3 linked regions of the Homo sapiens genome follow. The protein of the gene in region 1 purifies or fractionates together with the protein of each later gene. This does not show direct contact. Each region holds a gene or a part of one and is shown in the gene's direction. Other genes may lie near its edges.

Region 1 (9,164 bases):
CTCCATCCCGGACAACAGAATGAGACCCTGTCCCCCACCAAAAAAGAAAAAAAAAAAAGCAAATGGATTAAATATGTAATCAATCAAAGGGCAATCATTGTTAGACTAGGTAGAAAGAAATAAAAACAAAAACAAAAACCCTCAAGGTCTAGTTATATGCTGTCTACAGGAGACACACTTTTCAGATTAAAAAATACAAATGGTTGAAAGTAAAAGGATGGAAAAGATATATCATACAAATAGCAGCAATAAGAAAGCTGAAGTGGTTATGCTAATATCAGGCAAAATGAATATAAAACCAATAAAAAATTCTAGGTGTAAAGAAGGAAATTTTATGATGAGAAGGGTCAATCCTCAGGAATATATAACAATTATAAAGATATATGTCAGAGCCCCAAAATACATGAAACACAAACTTTCAGAACGAAGAGCAAAATAGACAATTCAACAATATTTGGAGAACTTCAATACTCCACTTTCAACAATGGACAGAACAAGTAGGCAGAATATCAACAAGAAACTAGAAGACTTGAACAACACTATACACCAATCAGACCTAACAGACATCTAACTATAGAACACCCAGTGATGGAAGAATGCAAATTCTTCTCAAGTGATGGAATATTCTCTGGGATAGGCCATATACCAGGCCATAAAACAAATCTCAATAAATTTTAAAAAGATTGAAATCATACAAGGTATGTTCTCTGACCACAATAGAATGAAATTAGAAATTAATAACAAAAATAAATTTGGGAATTCACAAACGTGAAAATGAAAAACACACTCCTAAATAGCCAATTGACAAAAAAGGGTATCAAAAGAGAAAATTAGTATATGCTTTGAGATGAATGAAATGATGACACAACAAAACAAAAGTTATGGGATACAGCTAAAGCAGGGTTGGGAAATTTAGAGCTTAAACACATACGTTAAAAAAATAAAGATCTCAAATCAATAATCATAACTTTCATCTTAAAACAATCAGGGTAAAAGGGGGCATAAACCCAAAGCATAAAGAAGAAGGAAATAATCAAGAAGAGAATAGAAAAATGGTAGAGAAAACCAACAAAACTAAAAGTTGGTGCTTTGGAAAGGTCAACAAAATTGAGAAACCTTTAGCTATACTGACTTTGTTTTGTGTTGCTATAACAGAAGGCTGGGTAATTTATAAACAAAATAGGTCATGATTATTAGCTCGTGGTGCAAATGGCTGGGAAGCTCAAGGGCATGGCCCTGGCTTCTGGTGAGGTCTTCTGTGCTGGGTCATAACATGGCACAGAAGGTCAAAAGGGAAGCGGACAAGTGCAAAGAGAGAAAACCTAAGGGGTATCCTGGCTTTATAACAACCCATTCTCAAGGGAACTAATTCATTCCCAAGAGAACTAATCCAGTCTCATCAGAGTGAGAACTCACTCACTATGAGAACAACACCAGGGCCAGCATTGAGGCTATCACCTTTACTTGGGAGGCTGAACTGGAGGAGCACTTGAGACCAGGAGTTTGAGGTTGTAGTGAGTCATGATTGCACCATCTCTCCCCAGCCTGAGTGACAGAGAGATACCCTATATATTTTTTTTAAAAAAGAACAGCACCAAGCCATTCACAAGATCCACCCCCTTTATTCAAATCCCTCCCAATAGGCCCCACCTCCCAATACCATCACATGGGGAATCAAATTTCAACATGAGTTTTGATGGAGACAAACTCAAACCATATCCAAACCATAACACTGACCAATAAATAAAAGAAAGAAGACTCAAATTACTAAAACCAGCAATAAAGAGAGGACATTAATATCAATGTTACAGATATAAAAAGGATTATAATACTATGAACAACGTTAGGCCAACAAATTAGACAACTTACATGAAATGGACGTATTCCTAGAAAGATGCAAACTACCACAACCAACTCAAGAAGAAATAGAAAATCATAGTAGACTTATAACAAGAGATTGAATTAGTAATTTAAAAGCTACCTACAAAGGAAAGCCCAGGCCTAGGTGACTTCACTGCTAGACTCTATCAGACAGTTAAAGAAGAGTTAATACAAATTCTTCACAAACACTTCCAAAAAATAGAAAAGGAGGGAACACTTCCCAGCTTATTTTACGAGGCCAGTTATATCCTGATAGCAAAACCAAAGACATTACAAGAAAACTACAGACCAATATCTCTAAGGAATATAGACATAAAAATATGCAACAAAATACTAGCAAACTGAATGTGGCAATATATAAAAAGAATTATACACCATGGCTAAGTGGGATTTATACCAAGAATGCAAGGTTGATTTCATGTCCCAAAATCAATCAATGTAATACACTGTATCTTTGGGAGGCTGAGGCAGGCAGATCATGAGGTCAAGAGAAAGAGACCATCCTGGCCAACATGGTGAAACCCCGTCTCTACTAAAAATATAAAAATTACCTGGGCGTGGTGGCACGTGCCTGTAATCCCAGCTACTCGGGAGTTGAGGCAAGAGAATTGCTTGAATCCAGGAGGCGGAGGTTGCAGTGCGCTGAGATCACACCACTGCACTCTAGCCTAATGACAGAGCAAGACTCCGTCTCAAAAAAAAAAAAAAAAAAAAAACAAAAAAAACACCATATCAATAGAGTAAAGGACAAAAACCACATGGTCATTTCAATAAATGCAGAAAAAGGATTTGTCAAAATTCAACACTTCTTCAAGATAAAAACAGACGACCTTCTAGGAATAGAAGGAAACTTCCTCACCTGTATAAAAGGCAACTATTTAGAATTCACATTAACATCATACTTAGTGGTAAAAGACAACGCTTTTCTCCTAAGAACAGGAACAAGATAAGTATGTTTGGCCACTCTTGCCATTTCTATTCAACATTGTAATGGAGGTCTAGTGTCTTAGCTTGGGCTGCCATAATAAAATATCATAGACTGGGTGGCTTAAACAATAGAAATTTATTTTCTCACAAATTTAGGAAGTTCTCATTGTACTCAAGGCAAGAAAACTCTGGACTAGGGTGTTGGCTGTTGAGATGGAAATTGGTGGTCAGATTCAGGATACGTTTTGAAGGTAACGTTTACAAGATTTGCTCATAGGTTACAAGAGGAGAAGGTGAAGAGAGAGAACAATAAAGAATTAACATGTACATGTTTGGCTAGAGAAACCTGGTGAACCTCGGGGCTCTTTAGTGGATGGAAGACCAGGAGAGGAAGAATCAAGAATTATCTTTTTTGGCCGTTTGATGTTTGAGCTTCTGAACCCCCAAAATCTGAGACAGGTCTCAGTCAATTTAGGAAGTTTATTTTGCCAAAATTAAGAATGCGCGCCCATGACATAGCCTGAGGAGGTGCTGAGGACATGTGCCTAAGGTGGGTGGAGCACAGCTTGATTTTATATTATATATTTTAGGGAGACATGAGACATCAATCAACATATGTAAGATGAACATTGTATTGGCCTGGAAAGGTGGGACAACTCAAAGCAAAGGCGGGACAAACTCGAAGCCAGGAAGGGGCTTCCAGGTCATAGGTGGGTAAGAGACAAATGGTGGCATTCTTCTAAGTTTCTGATTAGCCTTCCAAAGGAGGCAATCAGATATGCATTTATCTCAGTGAGAAGAAGGATGAGAGGCAGGTTTGCCCTAAGCAGTTCCCAGCTTGACTTTTCCCTTTAGCTTAATGATTTTGGGGCCCCAAGATTTCTTTTCCTTTCACCAGCTATTACATACCCAAGAGATGTTTAGCAAGGAGTTGAATACATATGCCTGTAGTTCCCAGAAGGATCAGAGTCTGAATGATATACAGTTGAATACATATGCCTGTAGTTCCCAGAAAGATCAGAGTCTGAATGATATACAGTTGAATACATATGCCTGTAGTTCCCAGAAAGATGAGAGCCTGATGATATGAAGAGAAAGGTGGCGGGAGATGGGGGGCGGGGGGCAGTAAAGCATCCTGGAGATGCCGATGTCCGGAAGTAAAGGAGGACCAGCCAAGAAGTTTGAGAAGAATCAGCTACTGTAGGACAGAAAAAAAAGCGAGCTGCCCAGACAGCAAGATAGTAAAGTGTTTCAAGGGTGTGGTAGAATGGGGCTAGGAGTCATGCTAGATGCATTGAGAAGAAACAATTGGGATTTATCTTGCTGGTCGCTGGTGTCCTTGAGAGGGCTATTCAGTGGAGGGGTGGGGAAGGGGACTAATTGGGGTTAATTAAGTTGAAAAGGTGAGGTAAGATAGTGGCAACTATTTCCTTGAGACTTAGTCTCTCTCTATAGCCCAGATTGGAGTGCAGTGGAATGATCTCGGTTCACTGCAACCTCCGCCTCCCGGGTTCAAGCGATTCTCCTGCCTCAGCCTCCTGAGTAGCTGGGACTACAGGCGCCTGCCACCACGCCTGGCTAATTTTTGTATTTTTAGTAGAGACGGGGTTTCACTATGTTGGTCAGGCTGGTCACAAACTCCTGACCTCAAGTGATCCGCCTGCCTTGGCCTCCCTGTTTTGCTAGGATTACAGGCGTGAGCCACCGCACCTGCAACTATTTTCATTTGACTGATGGGGCAGTGCACATTTTGGTTTGCATTTGTATTTACGAATGTTTGAGAGAAAAAACTCAAATATCTTACAAGCCTATGTGTCTGGTTCCATTTTGAAGTACTGACCTAGGATCTCTGTACCTACTGAATTTTTTTTGAGAGATAACATACACCTGAAAGTGCATAAAGTGCACTGTCTTAAAATGTACAGCTTGATCCTTCTTTAAAAAAAATCATATACGTACGCCCATGTAACTACTGTTCATATCTAGATGTTGAACACCTCCAACACATCCAACATAACCATAATGTTCCTCTGCACCTTCCCTGTCTATAATCTCTCAGAAGTAAACCAATATTCCGACTCCTATAAAATCCATTAGCTTTACTACATGTTTCAAAGAAAACAAATGAGAACTCTGAAGGACATTTAATTGGAAAACTGCTTTAGCACATTATAAACTTACCAATTTGCTTGTAAACGCTAACCATTTGGCGCCAAAATCCTGGGAGGGTCTTTTAAACCGTTCTTCCTCAAAGCACCGCCCCACTTTTTACACCACGCCTCCTTTTGCTCTGTTCCTTCCCCCACAATATTGGGACACCCTAGGCGGTAGAAGCAGCCGCTTTTCTGTCATGCGCATTGCGGAGAGTCGTTCTTCCCTCTTTCCCGACTTCACCACTCACTGGGATCAGACCCCTGTCATGCGCATTGAGAGTCCTCTAGACAGGCGCTCCTCGCAGCACCGTAGTGCGCTTGCGCTGAGCAGCCCGCGAGGGCGGAAGTGGGAGCTGCGACCGCGCTCCCTGTGAGGTGGGCAAGCGGCGAAATGGCGCCCTCCGGGAGTCTTGCAGTTCCCCTGGCAGTCCTGGTGCTGTTGCTTTGGGGTGCTCCCTGGACGCACGGGCGGCGGAGCAACGTTCGCGTCATCACGGACGAGAACTGGAGAGAACTGCTGGAAGGAGACTGGATGATAGAATTGTGAGTGCGGGGCGGCCAGGGTCCTACGTCCGTGCCTGGACACACGACTTCACCCCGCACGTTCCTCGTGCGGGTCGCAGGCTCCCCAGGACTGCGCCTCCGAGTTGCGGAGCGAGCGTCCCCGACTTCTGCAGCTCCCCAAACTCTTGGGATCTGCCGCCAGCTTGGTCCCACCCCCTCGTCTCTTACCCGTGAATGTTAAGTTTCTTCTGGGGTGCACCCTCGTTTCGTTTCTTGGGTTGTGGTGCGCCCAAAGGGTTAGTGCCAATGCGAATTCTGACATTTTTCATGACTTTGAGGATGCGACTGGGGCGCGGGGAGGGAGGTGTCCGACTCGTGTCTAAGTAGTTAAAGTGATTCTTCACAGACTTCTACACTTATTTTCACCACATTTTACATAAGAGAATATTGAGCAAAATTTCTCCTCTCGTTTTGTCTGTCCTTAAAAGATAGTCTCTTTATGGTGTTGGAATTTGGCGCTTTTAAGCTTTTTTTAATGGATTGGGTACGTTTCTTTTTTATTGTAAATACTGAGTCAATTCAAGTTGGGTTATTTTTAAGTTTTCGTTTTCTCTTTTTGCCTCCTCTTTTGCTTTCTCTTTTTTTCACTCCTCATCTCATTTTTCCTTTGGGTGTCTTTGTAGTGTAGAGAATACCTTGGGTTGTGACTCCTAGGTCTTTGTAAATGGTATTACATTAAAAGATAATGTATTAATGTATACACTCTCAAGAGCGCCAGGTCATCATTTATTGCTCGAACGAAATCATGTATTTTGTGTGGTGATTTCAATTTAATAATATCTGTTCTGCCGCGGTGGGAAATAAAGTATCTGTCTTTGCTTTAGATGCTAAGTCGTTGTTGATGGTGGTATTATACATATTAGCAGTATTTACTGATAATAGTAAAAGCATAATTATTAACAGTGTACTGGACACCACTAAGCACCTTTACACGAATACCATATTTAATTCCCTACAAATTCTCTATGACAGGTGTTTTTCACGTTTTACAAATGAGTAACAAGATACCTAAATACTTTAGTTAACCTATGCAGATATTGCTGTGCTGGCTTTCTTTGGGTCTTCAGAGTAGGCATACAATAATTGTTGTTAGAACACCTTCTTCTTTAAAAAGGTTCAGCTGGAAGTGGCGTACGCTACCCAGGAGATTGAGGTATGAGGATGACTTGAGCCCAGGGGTTCAAGAGATCCTGGGCAACTAGCAAAATAAATAAGTAAATAAATAAAAATGAAAAGACAACAGGGTTCAGGTGAGTGTTTTCTTGTGTCACGAATACAGCAAGGGTTGTCAAGTTAAGGAGGCCAGTGAAAGTGACATCCCCAAGGGAGAACCCAGAAGGCTAAATCAGTAAGTCCTGTGTTATTTTTTAAAAAAACAAAACTGGCCGGCGCGGTGGCTCACGCCTGTAATCCCAGCACTTTGGGAGGCCGAGGCCGGTGGATCACGAGGTGAGGAGATCGAGACCATCCTGGCTAACACGGTGAAACGCCGTTTGTACTAAAAATACAAAAAATTACCTGGGCGTGGTGGCACGCGCCTGTAGTCCCAGCTACTCGGGAGGCTGAGGCAGAAGAATCGCTTGAATCTGGGAGTCAGAGGTTGCAGTGAGCCGAGGTCGCACCACTGCACTCCAGCCTGGGCGACAGAGTGAGACTCAATCTCAAAAAAAAAGTAGAACATTTATATGGAGGGTAAGATAAAGGGAAATTTTCATAGTATGCATGTAGTCTGCAATTCTGAAATGAATTTTCATTCAGGCACCATTGAAAGCTTCAGGGGAGAGGAACTGTGACACTTTTTCAGTCATCATCATGAGTAACTTGTTTTAGATCGTGCCTGTAAAATAGTGTTATAAGCAATATATTAAGCAATAGTGATCGTGTGTGTATATGCAAAATACAGTCAAGTATTACTCAAGGATATTTTTTAACTCATTATGGTCCAACTATATAAATACAGCAATCAGAAGTAGTATTAAGGAGAACAAGACTAACAAAACATTGAGTATGAGGTAAATCCACATTGGAGCATCTATCTGAAATTATGCTATAGAGTAGTAGTTTTTCTTTTTCCTTAAGTAGAGATTCTAAAGTAAGTTTTTAGAAAGCAACTGACAGCCTGGGCAACATGGCAAAAACCAGTCTCTACAAAAAAATACGAAAAATTAGCTGGGCGTGTGGGCAGGCATCTGTAGTCCCAGCTACTTGGGCTGAGGTGGGAGGATGTCTTGAGCCCGGGAGGTTGAGGTTGCAGTGAGCCCAGATGGCGCCACTGCCCTCCAGCCTGGGTAACAAAGCGAGACCCTGTTTCAAAAAATAAAAAAGCAACTGAGCAACAAAACGAACCTGAAAAAGAAGGACTCTAGTAGTTTTAGTAATAGTCTGCTCCTAATTACAAGTGAATTATCTACAGTAAATCCATTTCTGCTCAGAAGTTTTGTCATGGAGATATTTTCATTGTAATACGATTTATTGTTAGGAGCTTGGCTTTTATACTACCAGTTTGTCTTGTTCTACAATGTCTATTTTAGGAGTTTGGTTTTCATAAAACAAGTGAAGAAAATGTGAAGTACAGAAAGTATAGTTTTGTGTTTAACTGCTTTAGGCTTTATTCTTCCTGGTTCTGTTAAAAAAAAAAAAAAAAAAAGAACAACCCTGTGGTGTATTATAAGATAAAATACAATAAAGTGGAAAAATAAGATCCTCAGGAGATAATACCAGAGGAGTAATTTAAATGCTAATATGCTTGCATTTGTAAATCCAAGGTCTTGGAAACAGGATGACCTAACTGGCCAAGAGTTTTGTTTGGCCTGCTTAGTATTTGTGTGTGGGTTATTTTTTGAGGTAACATTCTCATATAAAAATGCAGCTCTCCATCTTCTTTTAAATATGAATAGCCAGCCTTAGTGTGCCAGCATCCTTAGTGGCAATCCTACTTAATAATGGTTGCCACTTTAAGATGGAATATGTGCTTTCTTATTCACCACAGCCCAGGACACTTCTGTTTTTCCAACACCTTGCATTTGTGACTCTGCATTATAAATTATTAAAATTGGTAAGCTCTAACTTTGGTCTTGAGCTTTCTGGTGGCCACACCGTTAATAGAGAAATGCAAAAGTTTTCTAAAGAGCTGTTTTGCATGTGAAAAAATCCTGTGTCTTATTCTCAGAATTTTATTTGATTAGCATCATCAGTTCATCATTCTTGATTTCCGGATTGTTAGATCTACCCTTAAAAGTTTTTCATCTGCATAAAATTAACCACCTTATCATCTTCAGTGTTTTCATATGAAATATTCTTCATAAATTATACATTTAAATTTTTTATCCCAAGATAAATGGTCATACTAAAGTGCTTAACTTTTTTTAAAAAAAAATCTGTATTTCTTAGTTATGCCCCGTGGTGCCCTGCTTGTCAAAATCTTCAACCGGAATGGGAAAGTTTTGCTGAATGGGGAGAAGATCTTGAGGTTAATATTGCGAAAGTAGATGTCACAGAGCAGCCAGGTACTGTAAGTCTTTGGTTAGTTTTGTTTCTTTGCTGTTTGGGTTGATATATTTATCCTTTTTTCTACATTGCATAGTCTTAATTCTACCTTTCTTTAGGTTTTGAAAACCTAACAGTCTGCAGCTAGTTAAC
Region 2 (3,474 bases), on another chromosome or scaffold:
GGAGTGAAATTCCAGCTCAAAAAAAAGTTTTTAATGTGTGTAGTCCAACTCTGTTATATCCTCAGTTTACTGAAGTCTTTTGTTTATGATAAGGGTATAAACACTAATAGGATAGAAATGTGTTGTTACAGTTTTAAGTGTTTTTTTTTCCTTTTCTCTTTCACAGCATTTGGAATTTGAAGTCTATAAAAGGTTTTTTGACTGGTGCATGTATCTTACTGAATATAGTAGCAATATTCTTGTTCTGTAGCAAGGTGTTCATTCCATTCAGTATTTATTAAAGTACCTAACAAGTGCCAGGCACTGTCCTAAGCACTAGTATTACACGAGGTTTTTCGGGAGCTAAAACCTTTAGGGTAGGACAGAGAAGGAGAGTGCAAAAAGGACTCTCGAGAAAAAAAAAATGGTATCTCAGGTGCTTCTACGAGGCTGGTGCTGTGGTGGCCCCTGCCTTGTAGAAACAGTGAAAGCCGCACTGCAGGTAGATCAGTGCGTCCAGAGCTAGGCGAAGAGGTGAGGCTGGAAGGACACACCAAGCTCAGTCAGAAAGGGTGGTCTTTGTGAACCAGGCATTTCGATTTTTTCTTAAAGGCAGGGAGAAGCCTTAATTATTTTCATCATCAAATTTCTCTTTTCTGGTTGACTCAAGGGGCTCTGCACTACATGGCATTATCTAGGTAAGGTTTCTGAACAATTAGAGTAAGGGATTGTCCCTGATTTCTTTCTCTGAGAATTGCAATCTCCATCTTTGCTAGTTCTATTTCTATAGAACTTTTCAACAGCAGAAACCTCCTTGCTCTATTTGTATACACAAGAAACTGTGCAGCCAAGGTCCTGCCATTAAAACTATTGATTCACTTGACTCCAGGAACCCAGGAGGCCAGAGGAGAGTTCCATCTCTGCCTGACCTCTTTGCCTTCTTGTGGTGCTTTCCTGTTTGAAGTTCCCATGCTGGTCATCTCACAGGAAAGAAGCATGTCCTATGCACTATGTCCCTATGCAATCCCATTCTGACACCCTCTCTACCAATTTCTCCTTTAAAAAATCTGGATCTGGTTACCTGGACAAGGCCTTCATGTGTAAAAGGATCAAAAAAAGGTTAAAACAGAATGAGCCTTTTTTCTCTGTCTGTTAAGAGAACAGATTTTAGGACATTAAATTAATAGAGAAAGTTTTGCTGAAAAAATGAGATGATTAATAGAATGCTGGTTACCTAGGGAGAGTGGGGGATTACCTAGGACTGGTAGAGGATTTTTTACTTTTATCTTGTTTTTTGACAACGTGTATCTTATTAGGAGGGAGTCAGACCGCTGCTTGTCACTCACTTCATGGTATTTTCAGAGTCTCAGCCTCCTTGCAAGGATTTCTCAAAGCATTTAAGAATCATATAATACAGACCAGTTATTGGCTTTTAAGTTTTCTTCTTTAATAAAATAACTCAGTGGCCCTAGGAGAAATCTGAGAAATTTTCATACTCTAAATGAGATTTTGCTTGAAAGTAATTTTCTCTGCTGGCAAAAAGGATTAATACTGACATGAAACATGGGAAGTAGAATTGAGTAACACCTGGAATTTGAAAATGAAAGGGCACAGAGTGCCAGGCAGGGGGCAAGCTGAGGTTTCTCACTACAGTACTTCAATCCTAAGATGCCACTGAATGGTCTCTTACAGTCCTTTATGGACTATTAAGAAAAACAGATTGCTAGTTCAATTGTCACATGCTATCAGTTGCAAGTGGTAAAACTATACATCTCAGAATCAGTAAAGTGTGGTATCTGGAATAACAGTTACAGGTAAATTTTTTTTAATGATTTTTATGATGAATTACATACATAGAATTAAAAGTTCAAAAACCTACCTTAAAGGGTAAGATACGTTACTTTTCTATGCTAGTAGGAATTCAAATCCTTGAATGATAAAGCCATTTAGAGTCTTATTCCAAGGTCCTGCTGACAGAGCCTGATGTCACGATTTCCATGACATAATCTTGTAACTTTGTAAAAGGCTTTCCTTTCCCGTCTTCTCTATCCAGGGCTGGTGCGGATGGAAGGGCCCAGATTTTTGGAACAAGGATGCATACTATAACTTATGTCTTCCTCAGCGACCAAATATGATTTAAAATATCTTGGAGTCAAAGACTGCAGTAGAGTGGTATTATAAATTTGTGAATAAAGAATCAGTTTAATTTTTCACATTAAATCCTGGTTCTAGTTTGACGATTTAAATTATGACCTTTTTCAAAGGTTGTAAATACTGCACGGAGAATGTATTTTTTAGACGTTCCTTTAATAACTTAAAAGACAAAGCATACACAACCAGCATATTATAGGCATGTAAATACATGTGTTCTTAAATGGATCTTCACTTGGAAGAAAGTTTTTCGTCCTTCTCAGAAGGAGATTAGACACAACATATGGTAAAGCCAAAAGCAGGAGCTTATAGATTTGCATGAAATGAAGGCGTTCTTCAGACTTCTTCATAACCCACGTGACATCTGTTTTTAAAAACACGTTAACATTAAAAACTTTTTTTTAAAAAGAGTTTTATCCCCAAACTTCCACCATGCAGTCCCATTTTTGGTCTCTAGACTCTGGTAAGTATAACCAGTACTAAAATGTTAATGAGAATGAAACAATACTACTAGAAATACGAGTGTCAGTATTAAATGGAATAATAAATGCTATGCAAACAAGAGATCACTGCGGGAGGAAAAAAGCAGCAGCTCTGAGTTACTTACCAGCACTTCCTTTTCCCACTGGTATTTTCTACACTTCCGAGACTCCGTTTCTGTCTGAGCACGGCAACACAATCATTCCTGTCAGGGTGTTCACTTGCTTTTATTGTCTGCATACATTTAATTGTTGTAAGAAACTTGGCACAGTCTGGAAATCCACATGACCAAGCGAGATCTTCAGCTGTTTGCCCGTTCTTATTACATAAACTGAAAACAGGATAAAAACGGAGTGAAATGAAACATTGAACTTAAGTCTTTTTTTTTATATCTTACAAGGGAATTTTGGGCTCATACAAATGTTGGTTGCAGAACAGAAGAGGTAAAGGATGCATAAGGAAATTGCATTTTTGGTCACTATTGTATCCTCAGCAACTAACAGAATCCAGCATAGAGCGGGCATTCCAGTTCTGAATGAATGTTAGAATTATCTGATGTTTAATACAGTGTATGAGTACCCAAAGGTAGTCAATGGGAACTATAGAATGGGTTTTCCTGAACCGAAACTGAAGTAGAATACAGTCATAATGAACAAAATTGCACCTCTGATTGCTCAGGATCTGACTTTTTACTTACTCGAACTGAGTATTATTCGATAGCACCAACAACCTAAGTTAACATTTAAATGATTAACACTAAATTATCAATTACGCAAGCATTATTTTTAAAAGCACATGTAACTAAGCTTCAGGAGTCTGATTAGTTTAATCCAAGAAAACATAAAATGTGAAGCCACTGTTTTC
Region 3 (7,546 bases), on another chromosome or scaffold:
CTCAATTAAGGCAGATTAATTATTAAGTGCAAAACTAATTATACACAGAATGGCTATGTCTCAGCTACTATTTTGGTGTCATCTTATGGTGGGCAAGTTTGAAAATAAGTAACCTCTTGTAATTACTTAAATAAATACCCATTGCCAAGGCCTTTGAAAATATCAAGTTCTATGTAAAGACAAAACAGTCATTAGAGGGAAAAATAACTTTAAGAAAATGAAACTGTTTACTGGAAAAGGAATGAAAAACCGGGAAAATACCAGATTCCTTTTTCTTCAGTAGGGTTTTCAAAATCTTTGCCAATTCCTATTAGACCATTGGGAAGGGAAGACAAAGAAGGAAAGGGAGAGATGTTAGAGGAAGGTTATGGGTTCCTGGCTTGACAGGTGGGAGAGCTCAGAGAGGTGGGGGCTCACTGGAGCCATGGAAATGACAGGGAAGGGGCCTAGCAAACACACCAGACCACAGTACTGTGCACAGACAGCTGGACTGACTAGAAAGTGTTTTATCCCCCAGAGTGGGGAAGGAAACAGGCTCCTCTGGGCACAATGACCTGGAGAGGGCAGAGCAGTCTTCTTGAGTTCCAAGCCATTCCGAGGAGCCAGAGTAGGGTGTAGACGGCAGCAGCCTCCCCGCCTGCCATGCCACAGCCTCTCCCTGCCATGCCACAGTTCAGCTCCGAGAGAGAGTGCCAAGGTTTGAGAGACAACCCGTGTTTAATCCTTCAGTGGTTTTGTAGAGAGTGAATTTCAAAATTCTTAGGGAGAATCAGTTTACACTTTTCTAACAAGGCTGAAGTAATATCTTTCCCAGCATACCTGCTGGAGGTTGGAGCATGCAGATACAGATCTCCAGTTCATGGCCCTCTCAAAGGCAGGCTGCCCGGGTGCCCCGGGAACCTATACAATGTGTATTATTTAATTATTATAAACATTTTCCATCAGTTGACTTTTTTCTTCCTGGAATGCATGAATGAGTTTTTCCAGATTTGTTTCTTGTATTTTGGCTCCCTGCCAGCCCTGGGGATACTGCTTTTGCAAAGCAGTCTGCTACATCGGCTCATATCCCCTAAAGAACTTAGGGTTCCACTTCCCAAGAGTTTGTAATTTTCCTGAGGGCAAAGCCTGTCTCTTGTTCATCTGTCTCTTGTTGCACCTCCAGGAAGGGCCTAACACACTGTTTGGCACAGAATAGGAGCTCAGGAGTGACTGTATTTTTCTTTGTAATCGAGAGTCTAATAGAAATTTTACCTCTAATAAGAGCACAGCCCACCTGAAACCAAAGTTCAATTATAATTGGATCACATCTGATTGGCAGTACTACATGATTCTGATTCACTTTTCAAAAATTAGAAAATAACTATTAAATAAGTACAGTTTATAGATGAAACATTTCCAAACACAGGGGCCACATGCAAATGTAAATAAAGGGATTCTTGCTTGTGAAACATTGGGAATCACTTTACTAATTTGGTCTTTTTCAAGAGAAGAGATTCCTTCAATTGATTGGATTGGTTGTGGGGACCCTGGGCAGAGTGTTTGGAAAGGGGTATCTTCTAGTTTTTAGCTCTGGCTTCTTTCCCTGGCCCTTAAAGCACATGAAATATTTAAGCTGTTTTACATATTCTCTTCCTTCACGTATCCTTTGGAGGAAGGAAGGTACCCAGCCCCACAAGTAATAGCTTTCCATTCTTCTTCCTGGAGCATCCACAAGATGTTTTTGTGGGGGAGAAACCAGCTAATTTCAGCTCCTCTATTAACTAGCTGTTTGACCTTAATCCCACTAGGCCTCAGTTATTTCATTTGTAAAACAAGAGGGTTGGATTACAAATTTTGTGTGTGTGTGTGTGTGTGTGTGTGTGTGGGAGAAACCAGCTAATTTCAGCTCCTCTATTAACTAGCTGTTTGACCTTAATCCCACCAGGCCTCAGTTATTTCATTTGTAAAACAAGAGGGTTGGATTAGACTACTAATTATTTATTCAAACCTTTATTGTGTCCCCATCATGTGTAAAAGGTTGTGCTAGGCACTGGAATTACAGGGTGGAATTGAAACAAGGGACTCCTCATTTACAATGGAGGCTGTATGAAGGTCTCTTACAATTTGGTGAGAAAAGTGGCGTGACAGTAGTTTGTTGAGAAGGCTGTGATAGAGAGGAGTGGTGTCTCATCCAGACTTGGAGTGGCCACAGAAAGCTTCTCGGAAGCTGAGACTGCAGGCAGGAGTGAGAATTAGCAGGTGGGTGGTGGGACAGGACAGAGATGGGGAGATACGGATGTTCAAGCAGAAGAGCATATGCAAAGACCCAGAAGGCAAAAGAGGCGGCTGTGTTCTGGAAATTGCAGGTAGTCAGTTTGTCTGAAGCGTAGAGTATGATTGGGGAAGGTGGGTGCAGAGAGGGGAGGGGAGGTAATGGTCAGTTTATGAGAGCCTTCTCGCCTTTTCAAAGGATCTGACCTGTATGATAGAATGATAGAACCAGATTTGCATTTTAAAAAGACCTCTCGGCCTGTGCAGTGGCTCACGCCTGTAATCCCAGCACTCTCGGAGGCCAAGGTGGGCAGATCACCTGACGTCAGGAGTTTGAGACCAGCCTGGCCAACATGGCGACACCCCGTCTCTACTAAAAATACAAAATTAGCCGGTCATGGTGGCACATGCCTGTAATCCCTGCTACTCGGGAGGCTGAGGCAGGAGAATCGCTTGAACTCGGGAGGCGAAGGTTGCAGTGAGCTGAGATCACGCCATTGCACTCCAGCCTGGGCAACAAGAGAGAAACTCCATCTCAAAAAAAAAAAAGTTGACTGGGCACAGTGACTCACACCTGTAATCCCGGCACTTTGGGAGGTTGAGGCAGGCAGATCACCTGAGGTCAGGAATTGGAGACTAGCCTGGCCAACATGGTTAAACTCTATCTCTACTAAAAATAAAAAAAAAATTAGCTGGGCGTGGTGGCAGGTGCCTGTAATCCCAGCTACTCGGGAGGCTGAGGCAGGAGAATCGCTTGAACCTGAGAGGCGGAGGTTGCAGTGAGCCAAGAACGCGCCATTGCACTCCAGCCTGGGCGACAAGAGTGAAACTGTCTGAAAAAATAAATAAAAATAAAAAATAAATAAAAAGACCTCTCTGAGCTTTGTCACTCAAAGTGTGGTCCACAGACCAGCAGCATCAGTCACACCTACTGTGTCAGAAGACTCGGGTGACTCACACACATTTCAGTCTGAGAAGCGCTGATTAGAGGGCAGTGTTCGGGACAGATGAGTGCAGGGGGAATTGCTAGGGGTTCGTAAAAGAGCTCTCTTTTTCTTCCAGCGGTGAAGCACTATGAGGACTGTAATTCTAATGGAGGCGTCTCTCATGTCTACACATCTATGTTTCTGTATCGTCTCTGCTGTTTTGCTTTATCGTGAAGTGTGGGGCATTTCGGCCATGTGCCCCCCTGAGTGGCATGGTTGTCTACCCTAGAGAAAGGGAAACTGAACACATGTTCCTGAGATCCCGGTGTTGTTATTTCCTCCAGCCTCCTTTCTCCTTCACAGTGTACTGAGCACAGTTAGTACAGTGCCATGAGCAGTTCTGTTAGTAGCTACCTTTGAGATCTCTCTCCCTGCCCTACTAACCCTGTGGCTCAAACAGAGTTATATGGTCACTGTTACACTATTCCATAATGATTTGTTTTCTTGCTGGTCTCTGTAGTAGAAACTGACCCTTTTGGGGCAGGGACCCTATCTTTCTTATTTCTGTACCAACATAGCCTTGGATCATGCCTAGTCCAAATAAGCATTTAATAAAGGCTTTTTGGTTGAAGAATGAATGAATGGATGGATGAATGAATGGAATTTAACCATTCAAACACTACTCTGATCCAAAAGGAGAACTTGATTTATAATTTGTCTTAATGTATCATTTGGCTATTTCTGTGTAATAAATCACCCCAAAATTTAGTGGTTTCAGATTCTCAGTTCTTAAGATCTGATCCCTGGACAGAAGCATCACCTGGGAACTTGCTAGAAATGCAAATTGTTGGGCCCCGTCACAGACCAGCTGGATTCAGAACTCTAGGGTGGGCTTAACAGTCTCTGTTTTAACAAGCCCTCATGGTGATTCCATGCTGGTTCAAGTTTGAAAGCACTGGATTAAAACGGTAGCCATTTATTTAGCTCATGATTCTGTAGTTTGGCAATTTAGGCTGCAGTCAGCTGGGTGGTTCTGGTCTCAGCTGAACTCCTTCAAGTTTGTCATCAGCTGTTTATCACCTTTGCTGGTCTTGTCTGGCTCTCTCACTTTGGGACTTCAGCTAGGACACTGAGCTGATCTGGCTCTCTTCTGCATGGGCTCCTGTTTTCCTGCAGGCTAGCCTTGAGCAGAATCCTGAGAGAATGGAAGCGTGCAAGGTATCTTGATGCCTAGCCTTGGAAATGGCACATCATCACTTCTGCATTGTCTTGTGTAGCAACTCACAAAGGTAGCTCAGATTCAAGGAGTGGAGAATTAGATTTCATCTCTTGATGGGAGGAGCTACAAAGTCTCATTGCAAAGATGTGTGTTATTAATTGGGAGTCATTGGATAACCCCTCTCAGGAAGAACCTTAAGAAGGTACTGTTTTGGGGTAGGACAGGGCACTCTGTTTCTTTCCCATCTACCTAGTAGGGGATAGATACTGCTTTCTTCTATAATATTCGGGCTAGGAAAAAATCCAAGAGTAGCTTAGGGTCCCCCCGTGATGTGAAGGGGAATTAGAGTGGAAGAGGTCATGGGAAAGTCTTGAGCTAGAGAGAGTACAAGTCCTTAATTCATCCTCTCCCAGGAACAAAGGGGAACTTCAAGGGGAGTGGACCCCAAATTGATTGTCTTGGCTTTCTCTGCCTTTTAAATACCTTTGGCTCAAAGAAACCACAAAATATGAGATGGCTGTTTCTCTCTTTGAGTCAGGGATTCAGACACAGGCTCTGGGAACATGACTTCAGCTTCGTGGAGCCAGGCCCTGCCTGGAAGCAGAATCTTTGTCCGTGGACATGGTGCCTAGGACAGCAGAAGACATTCCGGATGGGGTGTGATAGCTTCCTGGTTTGGACTTGGCAGAAGGCAATCCCCTGTGAGCAGTCCTCAGGAGCACTGGCAACACAGCAGTGCCATTGGCTCCCACCTGCCCAGGGTCACAGCTTGCCCACCCTTTAGGTATTTTTTTATTTTTATTTTTTTGAGACAGAGTCTCACTCTGTCGCCCAGGCTGGAGTGCAATGGCACCATCTTGGTTCACTGCAATCTCTGCCTCCCGGGTTCAAGCAATTCTCCTGCCTTAGCCTACCAAGTAGCTGGAGACTACATGCGTGTGCCACCATGCCCAGCTAGTTTTTGTGTTTTAGGAGAGACTAGTTTTGCCACATTGGCCAGGCCTGTCTCGACCTCTTGACCTCAAGTGATCCGCCCGCCTCGGCCTCCCAAAGTGCTGGGATTTACAGGTGTGAGCCACCACACCCAGCCCCATCCTCTAGTTATGATGATACTTTCTAAAGCTGAGAGTTGGGCCTGTGAATTATCTTATTGAGAGACAGAGCTTCACGGGATCTTAGAGGTTGGCACAGACGTTTACTAGCCCTGGTCAGATGCTAAGGCTCTGATGCCTCCTTAGCCCCGGCGTTGGCTTTGAGGCCATGTAGAATCACTCTGATATTCTTATTCACATCAACCTTTTGTTTTAATGTATTTGAAGATACCATGGTCTCTTTTAAATATTTTTTTCCCCGGGCCATGAACTTCACAGGTCTCTGTTTTTTATATAGGATAATAACACAATATTTGTAGAATAGTTTGGTTTGTAAAGCTCTTTGTAGAGCAGCTTTCACACATGGCTCACCAATTACCTCATTTGGTGCCCCTCACACTGGAGGCATGGTAGGAATTGGTGTCCTTATTACACAGAGGAGGAGAGCAAGGCTGGTGGTGGTGAAGTCACTCAGCCAGAGAAGCCAGAGTGTAACCTATTTCCTGGTACCAGGCTTTCTCTCCTGTTATATAGAACATCTTCCTGTCTCTGACCTCAGGGCGTCTCTCTTACCCTGGAGTCTCTACTTCCCATCCCCCATCCACACAACCCAGAATACACCCCTGTGGCTGGATGTGGCATTATTGGCTGTGAGTTGTCTGGCTGCTGCACAGTGTGCACAGACTCCCTCATACGGAGACTCACAGGACAGTCTGAAATGCTCATTTTTTTCAGTGGCCAGTCACAGTATTGGCACGTATCAAGCTTAGGGCCTGCTCAGCAAAGCACATGGCACCAATAATATTAGCCCTATTTTTATTATAAGCATCACTAAAAATTGCCATGTACTGTAGTCAAGTCAGGTCACAGTACACATCTGGTGTAGAGCAAGAGGAAGACTGTGAAATTCCCTCTTCCCTAGATCCTTAAGTGTTAGTCTTGGAAAAGAATTCAGAGGTCATTTCATTTAGCTTCCTTGTCTATCTGGTGAGGAGACTGAGACCCAGAGGTCTTGAGCAGCTTTCCAGGAGCCTCACAGCAAGTTAGTAATTTGTGTGGTTAGGTCATTAAGTTAGAGGTTAAGTTGTGAAACTGGCAAATAGGGCTATATTCCTGTCCTTAAAGAATGAGAGTGAAAGAAGAGGAAAAAGGCCTCCTTTAATTTGTTTTCCTGTCCATTTATTTGCTTGTTTTGGTAAATTAGGAGAGAGAGAGAATCCAAGATTCTAAACAAATATGTCAAATTACCAGCACTGGGTTGAGTTTGAACTGTGACCTCACGTGGTTTTTTAAAAGACTACGTTCAGAGGCTGGGCTCAGTGGCGCACGCCTGTAATGCCAGCACTTTGGGAGGCCTAGGAGGGCAGATCACTTGAGGTCACGAGTTCAAAACCAGCCTGACCAACATGGCGAAACCCTGTCTGTACTAAAAATACAAAAATTAGCCAGGCGTGGTGGTGGGCACCTGTAATGCCAGCTACTTGGGGGGCTGAGGCAGGAGAATCACTTGAACCTGGGAGGCGGAGATTGCAGTGAGCCAAGATTGCACCACTGTACTCCAGCCTGGGCGACAGAGCAAGACTCCATCTCAAAAAAAATAAAAAATAAAAAAACTAAAGACTATGTTCAGGATACTGTATTGCTGAAATACAAATGATATTCATAATGCAGTTTTGGAGAAATTTCAGCCAAGGATGGAAGCCTGGGGAACACTGTGTTCGTCCAATCATACTGCTAGGTCCTTAAAAGCATGGGCCCTGTCTTCACTTCAGTTTGTAGCTCCAACACCCAGTACAATTGCCAACAGAGAGAGGGTACTCAGGAGGCATTTTCTGAGTGACCACATGCGCAGTGGAACACTGACTCAGTGATTCCTCTCTCTCCCCTGCCTGTCTCCATCTGTCTCCCCTTGCCCCTGCCATAGGGAAGTCTAAGCAATTTGGCCTTTTTGAAATGAAAATAGTGTCTCAGAATCCCCGCAAAGCCTCTGGGTTTTCAGGAGTGTCCACTGAAGTCCCCCCTTCCCCAGGACCTTTGTCATTTGAGACATGCTCTAACCT

The links.
Region 2: the proteins of TMX1 (region 1) and UFSP2 purify together in Homo sapiens (affinity purification with mass spectrometry; 2 studies listed by BioGRID and IntAct, with this or other methods). This does not show direct contact.
Region 3: the proteins of TMX1 (region 1) and PODXL2 purify together in Homo sapiens (affinity purification with mass spectrometry; 2 studies listed by BioGRID and IntAct, with this or other methods). This does not show direct contact.

Annotation. Positions count from the first base shown.
Region 1 is NC_000014.9:51,234,941-51,244,104, forward strand, and holds the start of TMX1 (thioredoxin-related transmembrane protein 1 precursor), read left to right. Parts: upstream 1-5,306; 5' UTR 5,307-5,352; coding exon 5,353-5,504; intron 5,505-8,915; coding exon 8,916-9,031; intron 9,032-9,149; exon of another isoform or gene 9,150-9,164. UniProt on the Homo sapiens protein: Thiredoxin domain-containing protein that participates in various redox reactions through the reversible oxidation of its active center dithiol to a disulfide and catalyze dithiol-disulfide exchange reactions.
Region 2 is NC_000004.12:185,399,037-185,402,510, reverse strand, and holds the end of UFSP2 (ufm1-specific protease 2), read left to right. Parts: intron 1-1,787; exon of another isoform or gene 1,788-2,032; coding exon 2,033-2,119; 3' UTR 2,120-2,493; coding exon of another isoform or gene 2,494-2,494; 3' UTR 2,495-2,733; coding exon of another isoform or gene 2,734-2,941; 3' UTR 2,942-2,974; downstream 2,975-3,474. Other genes in the region: ANKRD37 (ankyrin repeat domain-containing protein 37), read right to left, coding at 2,734-2,941. UniProt on the Homo sapiens protein: Thiol-dependent isopeptidase that specifically cleaves UFM1, a ubiquitin-like modifier protein, from conjugated proteins, such as CD274/PD-L1, CYB5R3, DDRGK1, MRE11, RPL26/uL24, TRIP4 and RPL26/uL24.
Region 3 is NC_000003.12:127,631,639-127,639,184, forward strand, and holds part of PODXL2 (podocalyxin-like protein 2 precursor), read left to right. Parts: intron 1-7,546. UniProt on the Homo sapiens protein: Acts as a ligand for vascular selectins. Mediates rapid rolling of leukocytes over vascular surfaces through high affinity divalent cation-dependent interactions with E-, P- and L-selectins.